Regions from separate parts of the Homo sapiens genome. Here region 1 is linked to region 2. Evidence: fine-mapped expression QTL. A gene starts in region 2. The other region holds a variant in brackets. All regions are shown on one strand. Distances are from middle to middle.

What was found.
Region 1: its variant is fine-mapped to the expression of MMP3 in nasal epithelium (TOPMed, PIP 0.93).

The regions. Positions count from the first base shown.
Region 1 is chr11:102,812,736-102,825,052 of GRCh38, reverse strand. It overlaps the pseudogene WTAPP1. Among named protein-coding and RNA genes, the nearest start is that of MMP1, 21 kb to the right of the region's middle. The variant C/A (reference allele first, on the strand shown) is at 5,983.
Region 2 is chr11:102,838,369-102,850,685 of GRCh38, reverse strand. It overlaps MMP3 (matrix metallopeptidase 3), which reads left to right and starts at 7,077. Exons shown (of 10, transcript NM_002422.5): 1 at 7,077-7,244; 2 at 7,770-8,014; 3 at 8,107-8,255; 4 at 8,407-8,532; 5 at 10,093-10,257; 6 at 10,434-10,578; 7 at 11,443-11,576; 8 at 11,976-12,135. The coding sequence starts at 7,140.

The DNA of each region.
Region 1 (12,317 bases), 26 kb after region 2:
GAGGAAGTGGTTGGCTCTTTGTAGCAGGTTGAGTCAAAGGGGTAAGTTTAGGTGACCTAGGAATGGATGTATAATACAGACATTCAGAAGTGGAAGGTTCATAATTTTGATAAGATCCTTTAAGTGACATTTTATATTATTTTTCTATTAATAAAATAAATCTTACGCCTGGTAATGAAATATCTCATGTGCACCCAAGGGCCTATTTCTAAGTAATGTAGCCATTTCATAATTCAAAAATAGCTGATAATTTCTCAATTAGGAAATGTCCATTACAAAATCACTGCAAAATCTGATGCCACAGGAGAAGCTTGAGTGACTCATAAAAGAGTACTGTGCAGGACATCTACACTCCTGGAACACATGTGGTATCTGAGACTACAAATGGATTCTTAAAGGCATGGAAATATTTTATGCATCTGCTGCAGAATACTGAACCAATATCCCTAACAAATTTATCTGAAAATGACAATTTAATCTTAAATTTTTCTGTGTGTGAACTTCCTTTGAATTTATTATCTCTCAAGTCCTAATGTGTTACCCTTTGACTGTCAGGTAGATGAAGTAGTCTTTTTCTCAATGTTCTGAGACCACATCAGTCTTGTGATTAATCAGATGCAAATTACATCCTTGTGAATGAGTGATCAACTTACAAAAAGAGTCATAACCATAAGACTATAGTTTGCAGAAATTTAGGTCAAAATCCTGCTCTGCTAAGAAAGGACAAAAATGCTTTCTACCTTTCGGGAGCTCACAATTGAGAATTATACCACTGATATGGAGATACATAAAGAGCAGACAGGGTAGGAGATATTAATTTGCTTTTTCATTCATTCATTCTTTCGACAATATTCACTAAGCACTCATTATATGCCAAGCACTTCTAAGAGCTTTGATAAATCAGTGTATTAGTTCATATTCATGCTGCTGATAAAGACATACCCAAGACTGGGCAATTTACAAAAGAAAGAGGTTTAATGGACTTACAGTTGCACATGGCTGAGGAGAACTCACAATCATGGCAGAAGCTTAGGAGGAGCAGTCATGTCTTATATGGATGGCAGCAGGCAAAGAGAGCTTGTGCAGGGAAACTCCCCTTTTTAAAACCATCAGATCTTGTGAGACTTATTCACTAGCATGAGAACAGCACAAGAAAGACCTGCCCCCATGATTCAATTACCTCCCACTGGGTCCCTCCCATAACATGTGGGAATTCAAGATGAGATTTGTCAGGGGAACACAGCCAAACCATATCAATCAGTGAAAAAAACAAAGATCTTTGTCTTCTTAGAACTTGCATTCAAACAAGAGAGACGGATAATAGCAAATAAATAACTTATGTCATATATTAGAAGGAGATAAGTACAATGGAAAATAGAAAAAGTAGAGTGAGGTTGGGATTGCAAGCAAAGAGGGCTTGGGGTGGTGACAGTTGCAGTAGGGTGCTCAAAGTAAGCCTCGTGGAGAAGATGATATCTGAACAAAGACTGGGAGAAGGCGAGAGAGCTTGCCAAGTGAATCTAGGAAAAAAGCACTCCAGCCTGAATAACAGCTAGAGTGGAGGATCCTAAGATGGAGTGTGATCATGATGGTCAAAGGACAGCAAGAGGACTACTTACAACAATCAAAAGGTGGGAGGGGAGTGGAAGTGCTAGAAGATAAAGTCCCAGGGATAAGGGTTGAGGTGGAAGGCAAAGTGAGTGGGGGTATTGGGCCAATATAAACACGGGCTTTCACTGTGAGTGAAATGGGGGTGGGCATTGGAAGGTGTGGAGCAGAAGAGCCTCTGGTGCTCTGCTAGGTTAGATTGTATGGGAGAAAGGGTAGATTCACAGAGACCTATGAGGAAGCTACTGCAGTATTCCGGCCAAGAGAGGATGGTGACTCCAATCAGGACGGGAACAGTGGAAATGGAGAGAAGGATATATTAGAGGGTGGAACCAGCAGGATTTAATGACAGACTGGCTGGGAAGTGTGAGAAAGAGAGAGGAGTTTAGGATGACTTCAAGTCTTTTGGACTGAGCAACTGAAAGGATGAAGCTGCCAAGTTGCCATCACCTGAAACGTGGAAGGCTGTGGGTGGAGCAGGGAGTTGGGGCAAGATTAGAGGTTCCATTTTGGACACATTGTGTGTTTGAGAGGTCTATTTGACATCCAAGTAGAGATGTTGGATATAGGAGTATGCAGTTTAGGGAAAAGGCCTGGATTGGAGACATAAATTTGGGAGTTATCAGCACATAGATGATTTTAAGGCTTGAGAATGGATGAGTTTAACAATGTAGTAAGAAAAAAGAAGTGAAGAGATCCAAGGACTGAGTCTTGAGGCATTTCAATATTGAATTAGAAAACATCTACAATATAAGTTCATATTTTGCCACTCTTCCTTTGTAATAGAATGCAACACCACAATCATTAATGGAATAAAGCAGGATAGCATATATTATATATAATCTATATAACCTATATATAGATTGTATGTGTATAATCTATAATTATAGGTTGCTGCTTGTTGATATTTGTGAGAGTCAACAGTAGGAATTATAATATTTATATATAGATATATACATTTATATACATATATTCAATGTTTATATACATGTGATGTGCTGGTAAGATGGACAGTTTGGGACAGAAAAGTGTGAACTCTTCATAGATGCTCCTAGGATGCGCAGCCAATGAGTGGAGGACTATTTAAGTTTATTTCCTTTCTCAAGGAAGGAAATGAGGGAGAAGTGATTGGAAAAGAGAAAGGATTAAGATGGCAAAATACAGAATGACATTAGGAAACTAATCTAGATTGATCATGTAGGAAGTGGGCAGGTGTAAAGGACACCTCATACAGGAGAGCTCCGGCTGGCATCTGGCACAATCATGGCAGAAGGCAAGGAGGAGCAGTCATGTCTTACATGGATGGGAGCAGGCAAAGAGAGCCTGTGCAGGGAAACCCCTTTTTAAAACCCTTCTCACCCCTCTGGGATGAAGCTTCCAGAGGAAGGAGCAGGGAAGAGAGTGGTGTCTGGGGAGAATATTCAGAGTCCCCAGGTTGGGACCAGAGAATCTGCAGGAGGGTCTTCATTCCTCAAGGATTAGAGGCTGAGAGGGCTTCAGTCAGTCTAACTAAGAAGCAAGGCCAGGCTTAACCTCAAGCAAGGAAAGGGATACTTGAGGTTGCTTGATTTGTGTCCATCTCATTCATTCATTGATGTATTCATTCCTTAAACAGGACATTTACAGAATGTCTGTGATTGCCAGGCACTGCGCTATGGATAAAAGATATATTCAGACAGGATTCCTGCTTATACTCTAGCAGGAGAGAGAGAAAAGTGAACAGGCAAGCAGGTTACAGGATATGAGTACTATTTAGTGCAGGCACACAGAGCTGGGGAAACACATAGCAACTAACCAGGCTTCAGAGATCAGGGAAGGATTTTCGAAAAGGTACATTTAAGCTGAGACCCAAAGGGCAAATGCTTAGTAAGTCAAGGAAAGGAGGGGTGGTATCTCTTCCAAATAGATGGTATAGGATGTAAAAGCCAAGAAAGGAGAGAAAACCTGACTTTTTATCTACTTCGACTCCTTAGCAGGGTATCAAAGCCCTTCATAATTCCAGCCCTGGTTACTGATCCATCTCATCTCTTATTATCTCCTACCCCAAATGCTACACTCCAGCCATTCTGAACCACTTGAATTTCCCTATATGTACCAAGCTCTCTTCTTTCTCCAGCCCTCAAGGTCGCTGTACCCACTGCCTAGAATATTGTGAATGATATGTTTGTTATGCATGCCTATTTGTTTTTCCTTCTCTGACATGTCCTCCAAAGTCCCCATGGATATGGCAGACCTAGACAATAATGTTTGTACCAGCAACCTCACCAGTATGGCTCTAGTTGATTGGATTAGAGATGAACACAAGAATAAAGCAGAGCCTGTCATGTGCTCTTTCCCAGAATTAGAAATGATAGACCCAGAACACATGTCCATGATCAAATTCATAAGATGAACTAGGATTGGAACCAGAATTAGAACCATAGCAAGTCCTAGTCACACACAGGCTGATGTTACGGAGGGGGAGCATCAGTTTGAAGGAGCCTACAGAAAGAAAAAATAGCAAACATTCAGGTTAAGTCTATGTAAGAAAAAGAGAGAAACACAGAGAAGGCAGAGGGATGGGGGAGAGAATGAGAGACAGAGACAGAGCTTGTAATCTTTCCATTTCTCAAGAAGGCTGTCCTGAGATTAGATCCCATGAGAATCCTCAAGTTCCTTACTATAAATCCCCTGTAAATGATCTCCCAACAAAAAGATTTTAGGCTTAGACATAAGTTAAAAGTGGGTTGGCAAGCCACAGACCCTCAGAGGATATGTGGAATTGGTGGTGGGGGTCCCAGGAGGGCAGCGTAAAATACCATGTCAAAGTGAAGCCAGTACTTGAGGAGGGGGAAAAATCAGCTGATTACCTGCCATCTGTATTAAACTGTGTCCTGGAACCCAAGCCATGGGCTTCCTGAGGGTGAAGTTTTAAGGTCTTTGGATAAAAAGTAAATGTATTTGAAGGTGTTGATTATTCCTCATAATCTAAAGTCTCTAATGAAAGGAACATGTTATAATCCAGATTTCCTTACAGAAAATGAGTAAGTAAGTAAAATAAGTCAAAAAATAAAGAAGGCCTGAGACTGAGAGGCAAGATGGCCGAGTAAGAACAGCTCTGGTCTGCAGCTCCTAGTGAGACCAATGCAGAAGCTGGGTGATTTCTGCATTTGCAACTGAGGTACGTGGTTCATCTCATTGGGACTGGTTAGACAATGGATGCAGCCCACGGAGGGTAAGCAGGAGCAGGGTGGGGCGTCACCTCACCTGGGAAGTACAAGCGGTTGGGGAACTCCTTCCCCTAGCCAAGGGAAGCCATAAGGGACTGTGCCGTCAGGGACTGTACCATGAGCAACAGTGCACTCCAGAGCAGACACTACACTTTTCCATGGTCTTTGTAAACCGCAGACCAGGAAATTCCTCAGGTGCCTACACCACCAGGGCCCTAGGTTTCAAGCACAAAACTAGGTGGCCATTTGAGCAGACACAAAGCTAGCTGCAGGAGTTTTTTTTTTTTTTTTTTTTTTTTGTACCCCAGTGGTGCCTGGAACACCAGCGGGACAGAACCATGCACTCCCCTGAAAAGGGGGCTGAAGCCAGAGAGCCGAGTGGTCTTCTCAGCGGATCCCACCCTCACGGAGCCCAACAAGCTAAGACCCACTGGTTTGAAATTCTCACTGCCAGCACAGTAGTCCGAAGTCGACCTGGGACGCCCAAGCTTGGTGCAGGGAGGGGCATCCACCATTAGTGAGGCTCCAGTAGGCTGTTTTCCCCTCATAGTGTAAACAAAGCCACCAGGAAGTGAACTGGGTGTGAAACCAGTGTGGTGAAGCCACTGCAGCCAGATTGCCTCTCTAGATTCCTCCTCTCTGGGCAGGGCATCTCTGAAAGAAAGGCAGAAGCCCCAGTCAGGGGCTTATAGATTAAAACTCTCATCTCCCTGGGACAGAGCCCCTGGGGGAAGGAGCAGCTGTGGGCACAGCTTCAGCAAACTTAAACATTCCTGCCTGTCAGCTCTGAAGAGAGCAGCAGATCTCCCGGCACAGTGCTTGAGCTCCGCTAAGGAACAAACTGCCTCCTCAAGTGGGTCCCTGACCCTCATGCCTCCTGACTGGGAAACATCTCCTAGCAGGGGTCAACAGACACCTCATACAGGAGAGCTCCTGCTGGCATCTGGCAGGTGCCCCTCTGTGACGAAGCTTCCAGAGGAAGGAGCAGACAGCAATCTTTGCTGTTCTGCAGCCTCTGCTGGTGATAGCTAGGCAAACAGGGTCTGGAGTGGACCTCCAGCAAACTCCAGCAGACCTGCAGAAGAGAGCCCTCAATGTCAGAATAAAAACTAACAAACAGAAAGCAATAGCATCAACATCAACAAAAAGGACACCCACATAAAAA[C/A]CCCATCCAAAGGTCACCAACGTCAAAGACCAAAGGTAGATAAATCCACGAAGATGAGGAAAAAACAGCACAAAAAGGCTGAAAATTCCAAAAACCAGAATGCCTCTTCTCCTCCAAAGGATCACAACTCCTCGCCAGCAAGGGAACAAAACTGGACGGAGAACGAGTTTCATGAATTGACAGAAGTAGTCTTCAGATGGTGGGTAATAACAGACTCCACCAAGCTAAAAGAACATGTTCCAACCCAATGCAAGGAAGCTAAGAACCTTGATAAAAGGTTACAGAAACTGCTAACTAGAATAACCAGTTTAGAGAAGAACATAAATGACCTGATAGAGTTGAAAAACACAACACAAGAACTTCGTGAAGCATACACAAGTATCAATAGCTAAATCAATCAAGTGGAAGAAAGGATATCAGAGATTGAAGATCAACTTAATGAAATAAAACATGAAGATAAGATTAGAGAAGAAATAATAAAAAGGAATGAACAAAGCCTCCAAGAAATATGGGACTATGTGAAAAGACCAAACCTACGTTTGATTGGTGTACCTGAAAGTGACGGGGGAATGGAATCAAGTTGGAAAACACACTTCATGATATTATCCAAGAGAACTTCCTCAACCTAGTAAGACAGGCCAACATTCAAATTCGGGAAATACAGAGAACACTACAAAGATACTCCCTGAGAAGAGCAACCCCAAGACACATAATCATCAGATTCACCAAGATGAAATGGAGGAAAAAATGTTAAGAGCAGCCAGAGAGAAAGGTCGGGTTACCCACAAAGGGAAGCTCATTACACTAACAGTGGATCTCTCTGCAGAAACCCTACAAGCCAGAAGAGAATGGGGGCCAATATTCAACATTCTTAAAGAAAAGAATTTTCAACCCAGAATTTCATATCCAGCCAAACTAAGCTTCATAAGTGAAGGAGAAATAAAATCCTTTACAGACAAGCAAATGCTGAGGGATTTTGTCACCATCAGGCCTGCCTTACAAGAGCTCCAGAAGGAAGTACTAAATATGGAAAGGAAAAACCGGTACTAGCCACTGCAAAAGCATACCAAATTGTAAAGACCACCTACACTATGAAGAAACTGCATCAACTAACGGGCAAAATAACCAGCTAGCATCATAATGACAGGATCAAATTCACACAAAACAATATTAACCTTAAATGTAAATGAGCTAAATGCCCCAATTAAAAGACACAGACTGGCAAATTAGATAAAGAGTCAAGGCCCATTGGTGCGCTGTATTCAGAAGACCCATCTCACATGCAAATACACACATAGGCTCAAAATAAAGGGATAGAGAAATATTTACCAAGTAAATGGAAAGCAAAAAAAAAAAAAAAAAAAAAAAAAAAAAAAAAAAAAAAAAGCAGGGGTTGCAATCCTAGTCTCTGATAAAACAGACTTTATACTAACAAAGATCAAAAAAGACAAACAAGGGCATTACATAATGGTAAAGGTATCAATACAACATGAAGAACTAACTATCCTAAATATATATGCAGCCAAAACAGGAGCACCCAGATTCATAAAGCAACTTCTTAGAGACCTACAAAGAGACTTAGACTCCCACACAATAATAGCAGGAAAATTTAACAGCCCACTGTCAACATTAGATCAAGGAGACAGAAAATTAACAAGGATATTCAGGACTTGAACTCAGCTCTGGACCAAGTGGAACTAATAGACATATACAGAACTTTCCACCCCAAATCAACAGAATATACATTCTTCTCAGCACCACATAGCACTTTTTCTAAAATTGACCACATAATTCAAAGTAAAACCCTCCTCAGCAAATGCAAAATAATGGAAATAATAAAAAACAGTCTCTCAGACCACAGTGCAATCAAATTAGGATTCAGGATTAAGAAACTCACTCAAAGCCAAACAACTACATGGAAACTGAACAACCTGTTCCTAAATGACTACTGGGTAAATAACGAAATTAAGGTAGGAATAAATAAGTTCTTTGAAACGAATGAGAAAAAAAGACACAATGTACCAGAATCTCTGGGGCACAGCTAAAGCAGTGTTAAGAGGGAAATTTATAGCACTAAGTGCCCACACGAGAAAACCAGGAATATCTAAAATCGACACCCTAACATCTCAATTAAAAGAGCTAGAGAAGCAAGAGCAAAAAATTCAAAAGTTAGCAGAAGACAGTAAATAACTAAGATTAGAGCAGACCTGCAGGAGATAGAGACACAAAAAAACCCTTCAAAAAATCAAAGAATCCAGGAGCTGGTTTTTTGAAAAGATTAACAAAAGAGATCGACGACTAGCAAGACTAATAAAGAAGAAAAGAGAAGAATCAAATAGGCACAATAAAAAATGATAAAGGGAGAATACCACTGATCCCACAGAAATGCAAACTACCATCAGAGAATAGTATAAATACCTCTATGCAAATAAACTAGAAAATCTAGAAGAAATGGATACATTCCTGGACATATACACCCGCCCAAGATTAACCAGGAAGAAGTCGAATCCCTGAATAGACCAATAACAAGCTCTGAAATTGAGGCAGTAATTAATAGCCTACCAACCATAAAAAGCCCAGGATCAGACAAATTCACAGCCGGATTCTACCAGAGGTACAAAAAGGAGCTGGTACCATTCCTTCTGAAACTATTCCAATAGAAAAGGAGGGACTCCTCCCTAACTCATTTTGTGAGACCAGCATCACTCTGATACCAAAACCTGGCAGAGACACAACAAAAAAAGAAAATTTTAGGCTAATATCCATGATGAACATCGATGCGAAAATCCTCAATAAAATACTGGCAAACCAAATCCAGCAGCACATTAAAAACCTTATCCACAATGATCAAGTCAGCTTCATCCCTGGGATGCAAGGCTGGTTCAACATACGCAAATCAATAAATGTAATCCATCACATAAACAGAACCAATGGCAAAAACCACATGATTATTTCAATAGATGCAGAGAAGACTTTTGATAAAATTCAACACTCTTTCATGCTAAAAACACTAAATAAAGTAGGTATTGATGGAACGTATCTCAAAATAATGAGAGCTATTTATGACAAACCCACAGCCAATATAATACTGAATGGGCAAAAGCTGGAAGCATTCCCTTTGAAAACCAGCACAAGACAAAGGATACACTCTCTCACCACTCCTATTCAACATAGTGTTGAAAGTTATTGCAGGGCAATATTGAAAGATAGCAGGGCAATCATGCAAGAGAAAGAAATAAAGCATATTCAAATAGGAAGAGAGGAAGTCAAATTGTCTGTTTGCAGATGACGTGATTGTGTATTTAGAAAACCCATCATCTCAGCCCAAAAACTCCTTAAGCTGATAAGAAACTTCAGCAAAGTTTCAGGATACAAAATCAATGTGCAAAAATCAGGAGCATTCCTATACACCAATAATAGACAAACAGAGAGCCAAATCATGAGTGAACACCCGTTCACAATTGCTACAAAGAGAATAAAATACCTAGGAATCCAACTTACAAGGGATATGAAGGACCTCTTCAAGGAGAACTACAAACCACTGCTCAAGGAAATGAGAGGACACAAACAAATGAAAAAACATTCCATGCTCATGGATAAGAAGAATCAATATCACGAAAATGGCCATACTGACCAAAGTAATATATAGATTCAATGCCATCCCCATCAAGCTACCATTGACTTTCTTAACAGAATTAGAAAAAAACTACTTTAAATTTCATATGGAACCAAAAATAGCCAAGACAATCCTAAGCAAAAAGAACAAAGCTAGAGGAATCACGTTACCTGACTTCAAACTATACTACAAGGTTACAGTAACCAAAACAGCTTGGTACTGATACCAAAACAGATATATAGACCAATGGAACAGAACAGAGGCCTCAGAAGTAATATCACACATCTACAACCATCTGATCTTTGACAAACCTGACAAAAACAAGCAATGGGGAAAGAATTCCCTATTGTGGGAAAACTGGCTAGCCATATGCAGAAAACTGAAACTAGACCCCTTCCTTCACCTTATACAAAAATTAACTCAAGATGGATTAAAGCCTTAAATAAAAGACCTAAAACCATAAAAAACCCTAGAAGAAAATCTAGGCAATACCATTCAGGACACAGGCATGGACAAAGACTTCATGACTAAAACACCAAAAGCAATGGCAACAGAAGCCAAAATTGACAAACAGGATCTAATTAAACTAAAGCGCTTCTGCACAGCTAAAGAAACTATCATTAGAGTGAACAGGCAACCTACAGAATGGGAGAAAGTTTTTGCAGTCTATCCATCTGACAAAGGGCTAATATCCAGCATCTACAAGGAACTTAAATTTACAAGAAAAAAAAAACCATCAAAAAGTGGGCAAAGGATATGAATAGACATTTCTCAAAAGAAGACATTTATGGGGCCAATAAACATACGAAAAAAAGCTCGTCATCATTGGTCATTACAGAAATGCAAATCAAAACCACAATGAGATACCATTTCACACCAGTTAGAATGGCAATCATTACAAAGTCAGGAAACAACAGATGCTGAAGAGGATGTGGAGAAATAGGAACACTTTTACACGGTTGGTGGGAGTGTAAATTAGTTCAACCATTGTGGAAGACAGTGTGGCGATTCCTCAGGGTTCCAGAACCAGAAATACCATTTGACCCAGCAATCCCATTGCTGGGTATATACCCAAAGGATTATAAATCATTCTGCTATAAAGACACATGTACACGTATGTATATTGCAGCACATTCACAATAGCAAAGACTTGGAACCAACCCAAATGCCCATCAATGATAGACTAGATAAAGAAAATGTGACACATATACACCACGGAATACTATGCAGTCATAAAAAAGAATGAGTTCATGTCCTTTGCAGGCATATGAATGAAGCTGGAAACCACCATTTTCCATAGACTAACACAGGAACAGAAAACCAAACACCTCATGCTCTCATTCATAAGTGGGAATTGAACAATGAGAACATATCGGCACAGGGAGGGGGACATCACACACCAGGGCCTGTCGGGGAGTTGGGGGCAAGGGAAGGGATAACATTAGGAGAAATATCTAATGTAGATGACGGGTTGATGGGTACAGCAAACCACCATGGCACATGTATACCTATGTAACAAACCTGCATGTTCTGCACATGTATCTTAGAACTTAAAGTATAATTAGAAAGGTAGAAAGAAGGAAGGAAGGAAGGGAGGAAAGAAAGAAGGAAAGAAGAAAGAGAGAAAGAAAGAAAGAGAGAAAGAGAGAGGGAGGGAGGGAAAAGAAAAGAGAAAAGAAAAGAAGGCCTACAATCTGTTATTCACGTTCAGACTACCCAAGATGTGTCTAGAAATTAGTCATGTACCTGGCTGAATTGCAACAGTTGAATGCTCTGCCCCACCCAGATGGTAACAGGAATGATAGTGTTCTGAGTGGTGAGAAATGAGTTAAAGACCAGTGAGGAAAGCTGGTGGAGGGTTCTAAGAAATCTAACTCCACTTGCCCAGTGCCTCCCTTCAAAGTGCTTCTCATTAATGGATTCCATCAGATTCCTCTGGTTCTTTAAAATAATCCTCCCTTTAATTCAGTTTGGCATTCCAACCGAATGGAAGGATTGCCTTCCAATCAAATGGTTCCTGATGAAAATGATCACACTGTTCTCCTATTTGTCTTGCACTTGAAGACCCAGCTCAGGGGTTACCATCTTTGGGGACATTCTGAGACCTTGCCAACTCTGCCTACTGGCTGTGTTCATTCCTCCTCTTATGTGCGTCCATTCACACACAGCCCACTGCAGCTGTCCACTTGAATGCATCCCACATGGGCACATTGGACGATGCCCAGCATCAAGCCCCTGACTTAGTCGATGCTCATTAAACTTTTGTTGAATGAATGAATAAGTTTGGCAAGGCAGCAATGCTTGATCCTGGGTGTGAAGAAGTAGTAGGAGTCTATCAGGCCAAGTGTGAAGAGGAAAGGAAGAGCATAGGCAATGGCATTAAGATATGAGAGAACATGTCATATCTAGGAAATTACAGGGTTTGACTACAGTAGGAAAGATGGTCTTTTCTGAGTTATAGTGTAGAGGGAAGAATATGAAGTAATTTTCTAATTATGAACATTAAATTTCTTTAAATAAATGTAACAATTGTGAAAATTATCCTCAAAGCCCATTAATCAATTAATTCAGTCAGTGAATAATTATTCAGCTGCAGCAGCAAATCTATTTTGAAAGTAGCCAGGCTATCAACAAAAAATTAAACTGTTAACATACTTGGCTAATTTACCTTGCACAAAAAGTAAATATCTGAAGCATTTCTGAAATAGATTAAAGGTGC
Region 2 (12,317 bases):
AACTACAGACTAGCTCATTCCAATTCTTCCCAATTCACAAGCCTCAATGCCAAGCCATGCCTTTCTACTCTTGCCTGTCCTTTTTCTGTCTGTAATATCACTTTCCTTTCTTAATTCTTTTTACTTATATCTGCAGTCCTTCGGGTTGCCCTTGTGCCTCACTTGGAAGATTATAACAGCCCCTGAAATAGTCAACTTCATTTGCTTCACATTCTAATCCATCTCAATCACTGCCACCAGATAAATCTCACAGAAACACAGTTCTGATGTCATTTATCTGATCAAGAGCAACACATAGAAAATTTTCAGTCTAAGAGGACAATTCCTTAGTAGCCACTGAAGCAGCCTTTCCCAAACTTGCACTAGAGCACATAAAATGAAAAGCTTTTTTTAAGAATGATTTTTCCAGTTTTTATAAAAACAGTGAAGTTATATTAGAAAAAATATTCAGAAGCCTGTCTATGTTTGTCTCACGAAACCTGAAGAACCTCTTGTCATCTGAAAGATCTAGAAAGATATTTGTTCTCAGGGTCCAGGACATATATTTTTCTATCAACTATAATAGAAAACACTGAAGCTGTATCTCTACTGAACAGGTTTTGATATTGGAAGAGAGAAAAACGATTGTGAACTGAGTGTCATATTCACCTAAGATATTTCCCATAGGATATTTTAACAAAAGACATTCTCAGACATGCTGGAATCAGTAAATTTCACTCCTGAACCACCTTTGGAAAACGTTTACATAAAGACACACAATTGCCAACTGGCTAAAAGCGAACATTTCCAGAATGCATAGGTCAGGCTATGAAAAGCTTAATGGAGCTACGTTTACTGAACTTGTTTGAAAAAGTCAGTTTTCTGATTGAAAAGTGTCTTTTCAGGATTTGACAGCCTGGAGTTAAGCTTTATCCGTAATGTTTTTCATACCTGTTCTCCTGCTTCCACTCTAATCCTCATATGAGAAAAATTGTTTATCAAGCATCATTATTTTACCCTACAACCAGATGAAATATACTGCCTGTTGGAGAACCACTGAAAACTTTATGTTACTCTGTTTTACATAACTGGAATATTTGTGCCAAGAATATTACAAAATGCTCTTTCCCTCCATAAAAACAGAGTTGCCTGGAGCCACATAAAAGCTATTGTCATTCTCAAAGTATTTAAGTGATAGATTTCAACATTTTTACCACTCATGTGGAGTGATCTGAGTCATTATGCTTTTATAAATGAAAAAAGACTGAGCCATCACGTGCAGAAATTACCTGTGCCTCATCCCTTTTCTATTCTAATTCCCCTTCCAACTAGAATGTTTGAAAGTTTCTATGGCAAATAGGCATAAAAATCAGAATATATAGTCTGATTTCAACTATGAAAACCTATGTGATATGAAAAAGTGCTCAACATCACTGATTATCAGAGAAATGCAAATCAAAACTACAATGAGATATCATCTTATCCCAGTAAAAATGGCTTTTTTCCCAAAAAACAGGCAATAACAAATTCTGGCAAGGATGTGGAGAAACGGGAACCCTCATACATCCTTGGTGAGGATGTAAATTAGTACAACCACCATGGACAACAGTACGGAAGTTTCTCAAAAAACTAAAAATAGACCTACCATATGATCCAGCAATTCCACTACTGAATATTTATCTAAAGGAAATGAAATCAACATGTCAAAGAGATATTTACACTTCCATGTTAACTGCAGCACTATTCACAATAGCCAAGATTTGGAAGCAACCTGTGTCCGTCAACAGATGAATTGATAAAGAAAACATAGTACATATACACAGTGGAGTCCCATTCAACCATGAAAAAGAACGAGACCTGTCATTTGCAACAACATTGACGGAACTGGAGGACATTACATTAAGTGAAATAAGCAAGGCACAGAAAGACAAACTTCACATGTTTTCACTTATTTGTGGGATCTAAAAATTAAAACAATTAAATTCATGGAGATAGAGAGTAGAATGAGGGTTACCAGTAGCTGAGAAGTGTAGTGGGGGGTAGTGGGAGTGGGTATGGTTAATGGGTACAAAAATATAGTTAGAATGAATATTATATAGTATTTGATAGCACAACAGGGTGACTACAGTCAACAATTTATTGTACATTTTAAAATAACTAAACAATAAGTTGGAATGTTTGTAACACAAGGAAGTGATCAATGCTTGAGGTGATGAATACCCCCATTTACCCCAATGTGATTGCTACATATTGCATACCAGTATCAAAATATTTTATTGTTAGGCATAGTGGCTCATGTCTGTAATCTTAGCACTTTGCGGGGCCAAGGTGGGCAAATCACTCAGGCCTAGGAATTTGAAACCAGTCTGAGCAACATGGCCCTATAATTCAGATGGAATATGTTGCCTTGTTAGTACTTCTGTCCAGCTAGTGATATTCAAAATTGTGGAAAATATAGATGAAATTTTATAAACTCCCATGATCAGCATGATGTGAAAAAGAATACACAGGTATAAAGAAATTAGAGGAAATACATAGTTAATACTGTTAGTAGTGTTTTTCTTTTTGGGTCATGACTATAAAAGATTTATTTTCTTCTTTGTACTTTTTTATATATTCTAAATTTTCTATAATAAACATTTAACGTTTTATTTAAGTATGTAAAATTTATTTAAAATGTTTTGTAGAAACTAGTGTATTAGTTTGTTTTCACACTGCTGATAAAGACATACCAGAGACTGGAAAGAAAAAGAGGTTTAATATGGACTTACAGTTTCACGTGGCTGGGAAAGCCTCACAATCATGGCAGAAGGTAAGGAGGAGCAAGTCATGTCTTACGTGGAAGGCAGCAGGCAAAAAAAGTGCTTGTGCAGGGAAACTACCATTTTTAAAACCATCAGATCTCATGAGACTCATTCACTATCATGAGAACAGCGCAGGGAAGACCCACCCCCATAATTCAATCACCTCCCACTGGGTTCTTCCCACGACATGTGGGAATTGTTGGAGTTACAATTCAAGATGAGATTTGGTTGGGGACACAGCCAGACCATATCACATGGCTTTCCACCAACAATGGAATAAGCTCTAAGCACCTTAGCTACAGACTAATGGTCTTCTATGACTGGACTCCAACCTATCTTTTCACAACTTTATTTTTTATTTTCCATTATTACCCTTCACATACCTTTTATTTCAATAAAAAGTAACTCTTTGACGTTTTCCATATAGAGTCTTTCTTGACTCTGCATACTTGTATACTCTGTTACTGAATTTTCCTCCATTTCCACCCTTGTTCTTAGCCAAAAGGCCAAGAAGCAATTTTCCTCCATTTCCAGATCATTCCAGGCTCACTTTATCTGCTACTTTATCTATGAGTTTTTTCTAAAGGAAACACCTAAAGTAAGCAAGCACCTTCTGCTTAATTCGTGTACAACTTTTTACTTTTTTTTTTTTTTGAGACAGGGTCTTGCTCTCTTGCCCAGGCTGGAGTGCAGTGGCACCATCACAGCTCACTTCCAGGGCTCAAGTGATCCTCCTGCCTCAGCTTCCCAAATAGCTGGGACTACAGGTGTGCACTGCCACAAGTGGCTAATTATTTTTATTTTTTCGTGGAGCTGAGGTCTCCCTATGTTGCCTAGGTGGGTCTTCAACTTCTGGGCTCAAGCAGTCCTCCTATCTCAGTCTCCCAAAGTGCTGAGGTTATAGGCAGGAGCCACCATACCAGGCTTATTTCTTATAGAATTAATTATATAGGGGATTCTTTCCTTGGCTAGGTTATATTCTCTCCTTCCCTCCTTCCCTCCCTCCCTCCCTCCTTCCCTCCCTCCCTCCCTCTTTTCCTTCCTTCCTTCCTTTCTTCCTTCCTTCCTTTCTTCCTTCCTCTACCTTCTTCCCTTCCTTCCTTCCTATACCTCCTTCCCTTCCTTCCTTTCTTCTTTCTTTCCTGCTTTTAAACAGCTAGTTTGTTCACTTTTTTTTTTTTACTAAAATTTTCTAAACTTTATCTCCAAATCTATACTCTTAGTTTGGGTATTCTGAAGCCCTTGAGACTCAGATACTTGATAAATGAATGTATAGCTGAAATAATGATTATATCAGTTATCAGCTAGAGGTAGCAAGGATCCTGCACAATCATGTCTGATTAGTCATGGAGAAGTGTGACAAATAGGAAGACAAATGTGAAAAGTTACGAGATAGAATGTTACCTGGGATCACTGCCAGTTTTTAAATCCAAGGATTAGATTGAATGTAAATTTAATTCTAAGCCGCTGATCCCTGGGAGGTCAGATTTATAAAACTAGCCATTATCTGACCCTTGTATTTATTTAACCATATAACAAATGATTGTTCTGTGGAACAGTCATTTTGATTTCTTGCTGGAAATGCCCACTTTTTTTCCGCTAGTATTCAGTTCCTCCCTCTACACCTGGAGTGTTTGCTCTCCTCCTCCCCTCTCCTCATCTTCCTCCCCCTTTCTCTTCTCCCTCCTTCTCCCTCCGTTCCTTCTTACACTCAGTTGCTCTTTAATTTTACCTATTCCTTCTCATTACTGCATTGATTTTTAAAACATACTCTACAAAATGCAATTTGACTGTCTCATGCACGGTTAGAAAACTTCTGGTTCTACAAGATTAGTTTGAGTGTTCTGCAGACATATGAATGAGGACTTCAATTATATATTAGAGAGATTTTAGATGATAGCTTGATCTTTTCTTGTGGAAATACAACTTCTAAAAAATTTAGTTTTTAGAGTATTTAGTATATATGACATGTAGAATCTGCAAATCTAGAAATGTCTGCATGATTTTTGGATTTTTTGACTTTTAATTTACCTGTTTGACATTTGCTATGAGCCTTTCACTCATAACTAATATATTATTTAGTTCTCTAAGTAATTTTTGGTTACCTACTATATATCAGATACCATGCTAAGTACTAGGAATACAGAATCAAATGAGGCATGGTCCATACCCTCAAGTAGCTTACATTAGAATGAGAGAGACAGATAAACCATTTCACTACAGTTCAGTGTGGAAAATAGAGTAGCAGAGGCAGGTACAAGGTACCATTGAACAATGATTAATGACTCTTCCTGGGACTTGGGAAACATCTTTCAGGGAAGTCGTCGAAGCTGTTTTAAAATATAGCAAACTTTTGTATTTAGTTCAGGAACAGCATGGCCCATTTTGCCAATCACATCTTAACAGTTGGAAAAGCAAACATATTATCTATCAGGCTTTCCTCTAAACTTTAAATATGTTTTATAAGTTATAACTCCAGAGAAAATTTACAAAGGATAAACCTTAATATAGAAGGAATTAGAGCTGCCACAGCTTCTACACTTTTAACCTCTCAATATTTTATCTGTTGGGCTCCACTGTTTCTTCCTGGAATTCACATCACTGCCACCACTCTGTTCTCCTTGTCCTCATATCAATGTGGCCAAATATTTTCCCTGTATTTCAATCAGGACAAGACATGGTTTTTCCCCCCATCAAAGGAATGGAGAACCATAGAATACTAGTTTTAAAATGTCTTTAGGCCAGGTGCCGTGACCCATGTCTGTAATCCTAGCACTTTGAGAGGTTGAGGCAGGAGAATCACTTGAGCCCAGAGCTCGAAACCAGCCTGGGCAACATAGTGAAACCTCTGTCTCTATTTTTTAAATAAAATTTGAAAAAGTCTTTAGACATAATCTAGTCTAAAAATGAAGGCTTAAATGTGATGTATAGCCCCCTGCCAAGTGGCTATCAACTGTGTGGGCATCTTCAGTCATAGGGATCTTATTGCCACAGAGAAATCCCTTTAAACTTATTGGGTAAAATCTCTCCAATGTTTATTAAGAAACACACAAAAAATAAAGCAAAGAAGAAAATGCAAAAGAGTTATAAATGAGAGGAAGCAAAATGGGCACTTATTAAAGGTCTAATAAATGCACATTTGTATCCATCATTCTACTGAGTTCTTACTCCCAAGATGTTCTTCCCTTTAGCAAACAAATAAGCAAGTCAGCAAAGAAAGAAAGAACAAACAAAATGTGGTGATCAGGGAAGCATTGAGGAGATGGATGGTGGCAGGTGGCAAGAGGACTATAAAAGTTTTACAAAATGTCTTCCTCTGAATATGTTTAGAGTCTTGCATTCAAGCATTTATTATACACCAATAATGTGAGCAACACTTTACTTGACAAAGAAACAGAAAAGAAAGGAAAGGAAGAAAACAGAAGAGCATGAAGAGAAAATTTAGGATGGATTCTGTTCTTCAACTTCAAAGCATCTGCTAATTTGAATTTAGGGAGGAGGGGAAAAGGTTGAAAGAGAATAAGACATGTGTAGAAGACAAGGACAGAGAGAATTTCAGTCCGGTAAGCAATGTAATTCATTTCAATTCTACAACTATTTATGGAGCAGCTACGTGGGCCCATCACCCATTAATAAATTGGTTACAGAATTAAAACCAACCCAAAGGGAATATACTTCCTTCTTTTTCACAGACCCTCTTTGTTCTATTCTGCCCATGAGGTTTTCCTCCTCAAGAACCAGCAAATCCAACGACAGTCAATAGCAGGCATTACAAATCAGATTCAGAAAAATAAATCACCCCTTCTAAATTTCTTCTAGATATTATCTTTTATGTTTTGAGTATAATTGTATATAGTATAGACTATAGCTATGTATGTACACTTTCCACTTACATCTTTTATTTGCTTTTATAATGTGTTTCTTAAAATAAAACTGCTTTTAGAAGTTCTGCACAATTCTGATTTTTACCAAGTCAACCTACTTCTTCTCTCAAAAGGACAAACATAAATTGTCTAGTGAATTCCAGTCAATTTTTCCAGAAGAAAAAAAATGCTCCAGTTTTCTCCTCTACCAAGACAGGAAGCACTTCCTGGAGATTAATCACTGTGTTGCCTTGCAAAATTGGGAAGGTTGAGAGAAATTAGTAAAGTAGGTTGTATCATCCTACTTTGAATTTGGAATGTTTGGAAATGGTCCTGCTGCCATTTGGATGAAAGCAAGGATGAGTCAAGCTGCGGGTGATCCAAACAAACACTGTCACTCTTTAAAAGCTGCGCTCCCGAGGTTGGACCTACAAGGAGGCAGGCAAGACAGCAAGGCATAGAGACAACATAGAGCTAAGTAAAGCCAGTGGAAATGAAGAGTCTTCCAATCCTACTGTTGCTGTGCGTGGCAGTTTGCTCAGCCTATCCATTGGATGGAGCTGCAAGGGGTGAGGACACCAGCATGAACCTTGTTCAGGTAATTAACACTAACTGACCTGGCCAGGTGGGGAGCTTCCAGAGTAAGCTGAAACCATTCTGTGTGTCTTAAAACCCACATAGAATGCTTGAGCTTACTGTGTAGGAACAGTTCAAGAATAGAGAGTTATAGAGTGTTGGAAGTGGAAAAGGTCTCATTATCACACCATTTGGGCTTCTCCTCTTATGTAGGAAGAAACAAAGGCCAGAAATATTAGGTGTTTTCTTAAGATCACACAACACCATAGCAGTAGCAGCACTGGGGCTTAAGGCACATGAGTAACAAGTGGAGAGTGGATGAACCATATCTTGCTTTGGAACAGCTTCAGTTTTTTTTTTAATGCAACGTAATTTTAGCTAAATATTTGTGTTGCTAGTATCATATTATAAAATTTGCCATTATTTCAGCAAGCTAGAGAAATACTCCAAATAGATTAAGAAGTGAGCAACTGCAAAAACTTACTATAAATAGATAGCTATAGTAAAAATTGTAAGAGTGACCTAAAAACTATACTTATTCTGTTAGAAATATCTAGAAAACTACTACGACCTCAAAAAAGATGTGAAACAGTTTGTTAGGAGAAAGGACAGTGGTCCTGTTGTTAAAAAAATCCGAGAAATGCAGAAGTTCCTTGGATTGGAGGTGACGGGGAAGCTGGACTCCGACACTCTGGAGGTGATGCGCAAGCCCAGGTGTGGAGTTCCTGATGTTGGTCACTTCAGAACCTTTCCTGGCATCCCGAAGTGGAGGAAAACCCACCTTACATACAGGTAATGGTTCAGAGGGGTTTTCACATAAGATTGGAATTTTATAAACTATATCATAGGAGAAAATAGCATCTGCTTCAATTTTTCTCCTACAGGATTGTGAATTATACACCAGATTTGCCAAAAGATGCTGTTGATTCTGCTGTTGAGAAAGCTCTGAAAGTCTGGGAAGAGGTGACTCCACTCACATTCTCCAGGCTGTATGAAGGAGAGGCTGATATAATGATCTCTTTTGCAGTTAGAGGTAAAAAAAAAAAAAAAAAAAAAAAAGCAAAACAAAACAAAACAAAAAACACATGAAATGTATCCATTCATCTATCTGGTGTTGTTGTACTGGAAAAGGCTCAAAAGGGATCCTTGTTACATATCTTTCCAATAAATTTTTTTCCTACTAGAACATGGAGACTTTTACCCTTTTGATGGACCTGGAAATGTTTTGGCCCATGCCTATGCCCCTGGGCCAGGGATTAATGGAGATGCCCACTTTGATGATGATGAACAATGGACAAAGGATACAACAGGTTAGTTACACATCTCTCAGAATGATTTTGGCATTAATTTTTTTATATGTAGAAATCTGTTAATAACCAAGAATGCTCAAGAAATGAGATGTTCTGGATTTTCCAGTGGATCAGAGATCAGCAGAATATATTTTTGTTTTAATTATTATTGAAAATATTTTCAGATGCTTTAACAGTTTTCCTATATTGGTAAGCACAATATAGGAAATATCATTAAGTATTTCTTTAATGACTGGATCTTTGTGATCTAGGGGTAACCATTATTAAGAAAAATTTCTCATATCAAAATACAAACATTCAAGGGATAGTATATTGCACTGAATCTACATTAAAATGTGCTCTGGATGTTACTTATGTAATTTCCTCCATTTACTTCTTTACTCTTCAAACCAGAAATAAGAATTAAATTTCAGAAACTGAGATTCTCTTTTTTTTTTTTTTCTGGCTGAGGCATTATTTTAGTACTTTTAGGTTAAAAGAATTTTTATGGGCTTGTTCTGAAGGAAAAGACTAACTCCCAAATACAACGTTCAAACTGTTTAGGTAGAAGAATGTTTCTCAGTTCATAACTGTATGTTTTGGGGAATGACATCCAAAGTTTTCAAAAAAATCAGCTAAAACAATTAACACTACTTCTAAAAAAATAGGAAAACAATTAATACTATGTCTGAGGTTTAACTGGGATTTATAATGAAAATGTAAACCTCTGTAGGACGTACAAATGTGAGTTTAGTCCTGGATAGAATTCTTGATTGGTTGAGTTAACGAATTCTTGTAAAGAAACCTTCCTGCAAACTCTCAAATGAGATTGTTCCTAGCATCACAAGTTACACAAGTAATACTAGCAAAAGTAAGGTAGATTTACTTACTATATTGATCATAATTACCCAATGCCTCCCAATTTTAGCATTATGGGTGTTTTTAAAAATATGAAGGAAAAAATTTTGAATAAAGCCAGTGTTTATGTATTCTAAATCTGTTGTGTGACAAATGCTAGACATGATTGGGCATACTGTGTTTTAAACCAATTTTGCAAATCCTATGACATCTATCATTATTCATGTTTTTAGTCTCAATATGTACTTCATGATGATGAGGCTGAGACATTATCAATTAACATGAATATAGTTTCCTTTAACTGAGACTGCAAATGGCAAATGTAAATATATTAAAACAGTGTTTAGCTTTGCATTGACAAATGAAGGTAAATATCTGATATGCTAAGCAAGTGGGTTCATTCCATTCCTGAGTACAAGAAAAGGGATCTGGTTCTTCTGGAGTTAATATGCTTGTGAGGCTGGGGGTGGGTTTGGGGCCATGGGGGGCAAGTGGATGTAACTGGGAAATCAATCTCAAAGATTGATTACAGGTATGAGTTTTAAAATACACTTAGCTTTCCATTAAGTGTGTAATTAGTCAATTGTTCAATTAACCAACAAACAAGGTGTAAAAAGCCCTGTGTGGTTCCAAGAAGTAAAAACCAATACAATGCACAGCAGACCTGTGTAATGCACATGTATTTAAAAAATAAGTAACTATTGTTCTCAATTTCTTAAATAGGGACCAATTTATTTCTCGTTGCTGCTCATGAAATTGGCCACTCCCTGGGTCTCTTTCACTCAGCCAACACTGAAGCTTTGATGTACCCACTCTATCACTCACTCACAGACCTGACTCGGTTCCGCCTGTCTCAAGATGATATAAATGGCATTCAGTCCCTCTATGGTGAGTGACACTGGGAAAATCAGCCATTGTAGTTTTGCAATGATGGTCTTCAGAAGAGCTTTCAAATGCTACATAAAGTATTTATGATTTAGTTCAAAGCACCGTGAGAATGTTTGGAAAGCATACAAATGGGCATATATTGAAACGTATCACATTTCCCCTAATGTTCCCTTTAGGACCTCCCCCTGACTCCCCTGAGACCCCCCTGGTACCCACGGAACCTGTCCCTCCAGAACCTGGGACGCCAGCCAACTGTGATCCTGCTTTGTCCTTTGATGCTGTCAGCACTCTGAGGGGAGAAATCCTGATCTTTAAAGACAGGTCAGGCTGAAAAATTATATTTTCCTACCATTTTAATCTACAATGTTTAGAAAGGAAAACACGCAGAAACTTGATAGAGATTCTTAGACATTTAAAACAAAAACGTTTCTTCTGAGCTTGGAATCATTTAGATCTGGTGCTGCCTTTTCCCACATTTTCCTAAAATTGTCAGGTTCATTTTTGAAGGCACAGGCTGATCTGGTTCTTAGCTTCTAATTGCTGTTTCCAAATGTCTTAAGTCACAGTTACTTTTCAAAAGGCATGAGTAGATCTTTCGAATAATAATTTTATTTTTACTTCCTTTAAAAATGACATCAGGATCAACATTACATTTAATCAAGTAATTTACTTACTGATGGATCAATATGCACATGACAAACATTCAAAGAGCACAAATGAGAAGCAAATTAAAAATTTTAGTTCCCAGTTCTCCCTGTACTCATCCAGAGTCAAGACTTTTTGTGCATCCTTCCAGAATCTTTCTACACACATACAAGAATATATTTACACAGCACATACACGTATACAAACACGGCCTAGCTTTTGGAAGAGGGTATAGCACACGCACTGTTTTGCATACATTGCAGGTAATTAAAGCTTATGCTGGGCTAATTCATTTGCACGATAGAATAATTTTTCTTTCATAGAAGACATTACTCTGGAAACCTATGACGGGAGACTCACTACAGTCTTCTGAAGAAAAAGGAAAGAAATTTTCTAATGGCAATATACCTGATTTCTATCTGTCATCCAGCCTAGAAGATGAGAGAATGGGGGAAGCTGGGTGAGGCAAGACGGTGAGGAAAATATTCTAAAGGTGAAAGATTGTTTTTCAATTTACATTTCTTTTTACATATATTTTAGGCACTTTTGGCGCAAATCCCTCAGGAAGCTTGAACCTGAATTGCATTTGATCTCTTCATTTTGGCCATCTCTTCCTTCAGGCGTGGATGCCGCATATGAAGTTACTAGCAAGGACCTCGTTTTCATTTTTAAAGGTAATTACTATATCATCATTTGTTTAACTTGCCAAAGTAAACCCTCTCATAAGAAATTGAACAACACTTTAATTTTCCCTACTACAAGTTCTGGCTAATACAGTAGTCAACGGTAATGAAGAAATAACCAGGGCTGATATCATTGTATTTATATTTCATAGATGATAAAAATAAAGACAAGAAGATAAATTACCCAGAGTTGTAAATTCTCTCATTTGACCTTAGTTCATTCATTCAGTCTGCAAATTTTTGTGAAAAGCCCACTGTAAGCTGGTGACTAAATCTAAAATTTGGGCTACTACTTTACCATGAAAATCAAAGATGCTAAAGTGTATTTCTAAAGCGAAAGGGCTTAACTGTTATAATTCAATATGACTCTGAATTATTTATATTTAACAGGAAATCAATTCTGGGCTATCAGAGGAAATGAGGTACGAGCTGGATACCCAAGAGGCATCCACACCCTAGGTTTCCCTCCAACCGTGAGGAAAATCGATGCAGCCATTTCTGATAAGGAAAAGAACAAAACATATTTCTTTGTAGAGGACAAATACTGGAGGTGAGATGCAAGAGAAATGACTTTGTATGGAGCCTAATTAGGGAAATTAGTTTCTTTTACTAAGGAAATCCCCCACCCCAACCTTAGGCCTGCTTCTCTCTTAGTAGGAAGGATGGGACTTCAGACAACTGTGGGAAAGTTCTTACTTTAAAACAGCAGCACCTTAGGCTCTCCTGCTTTCA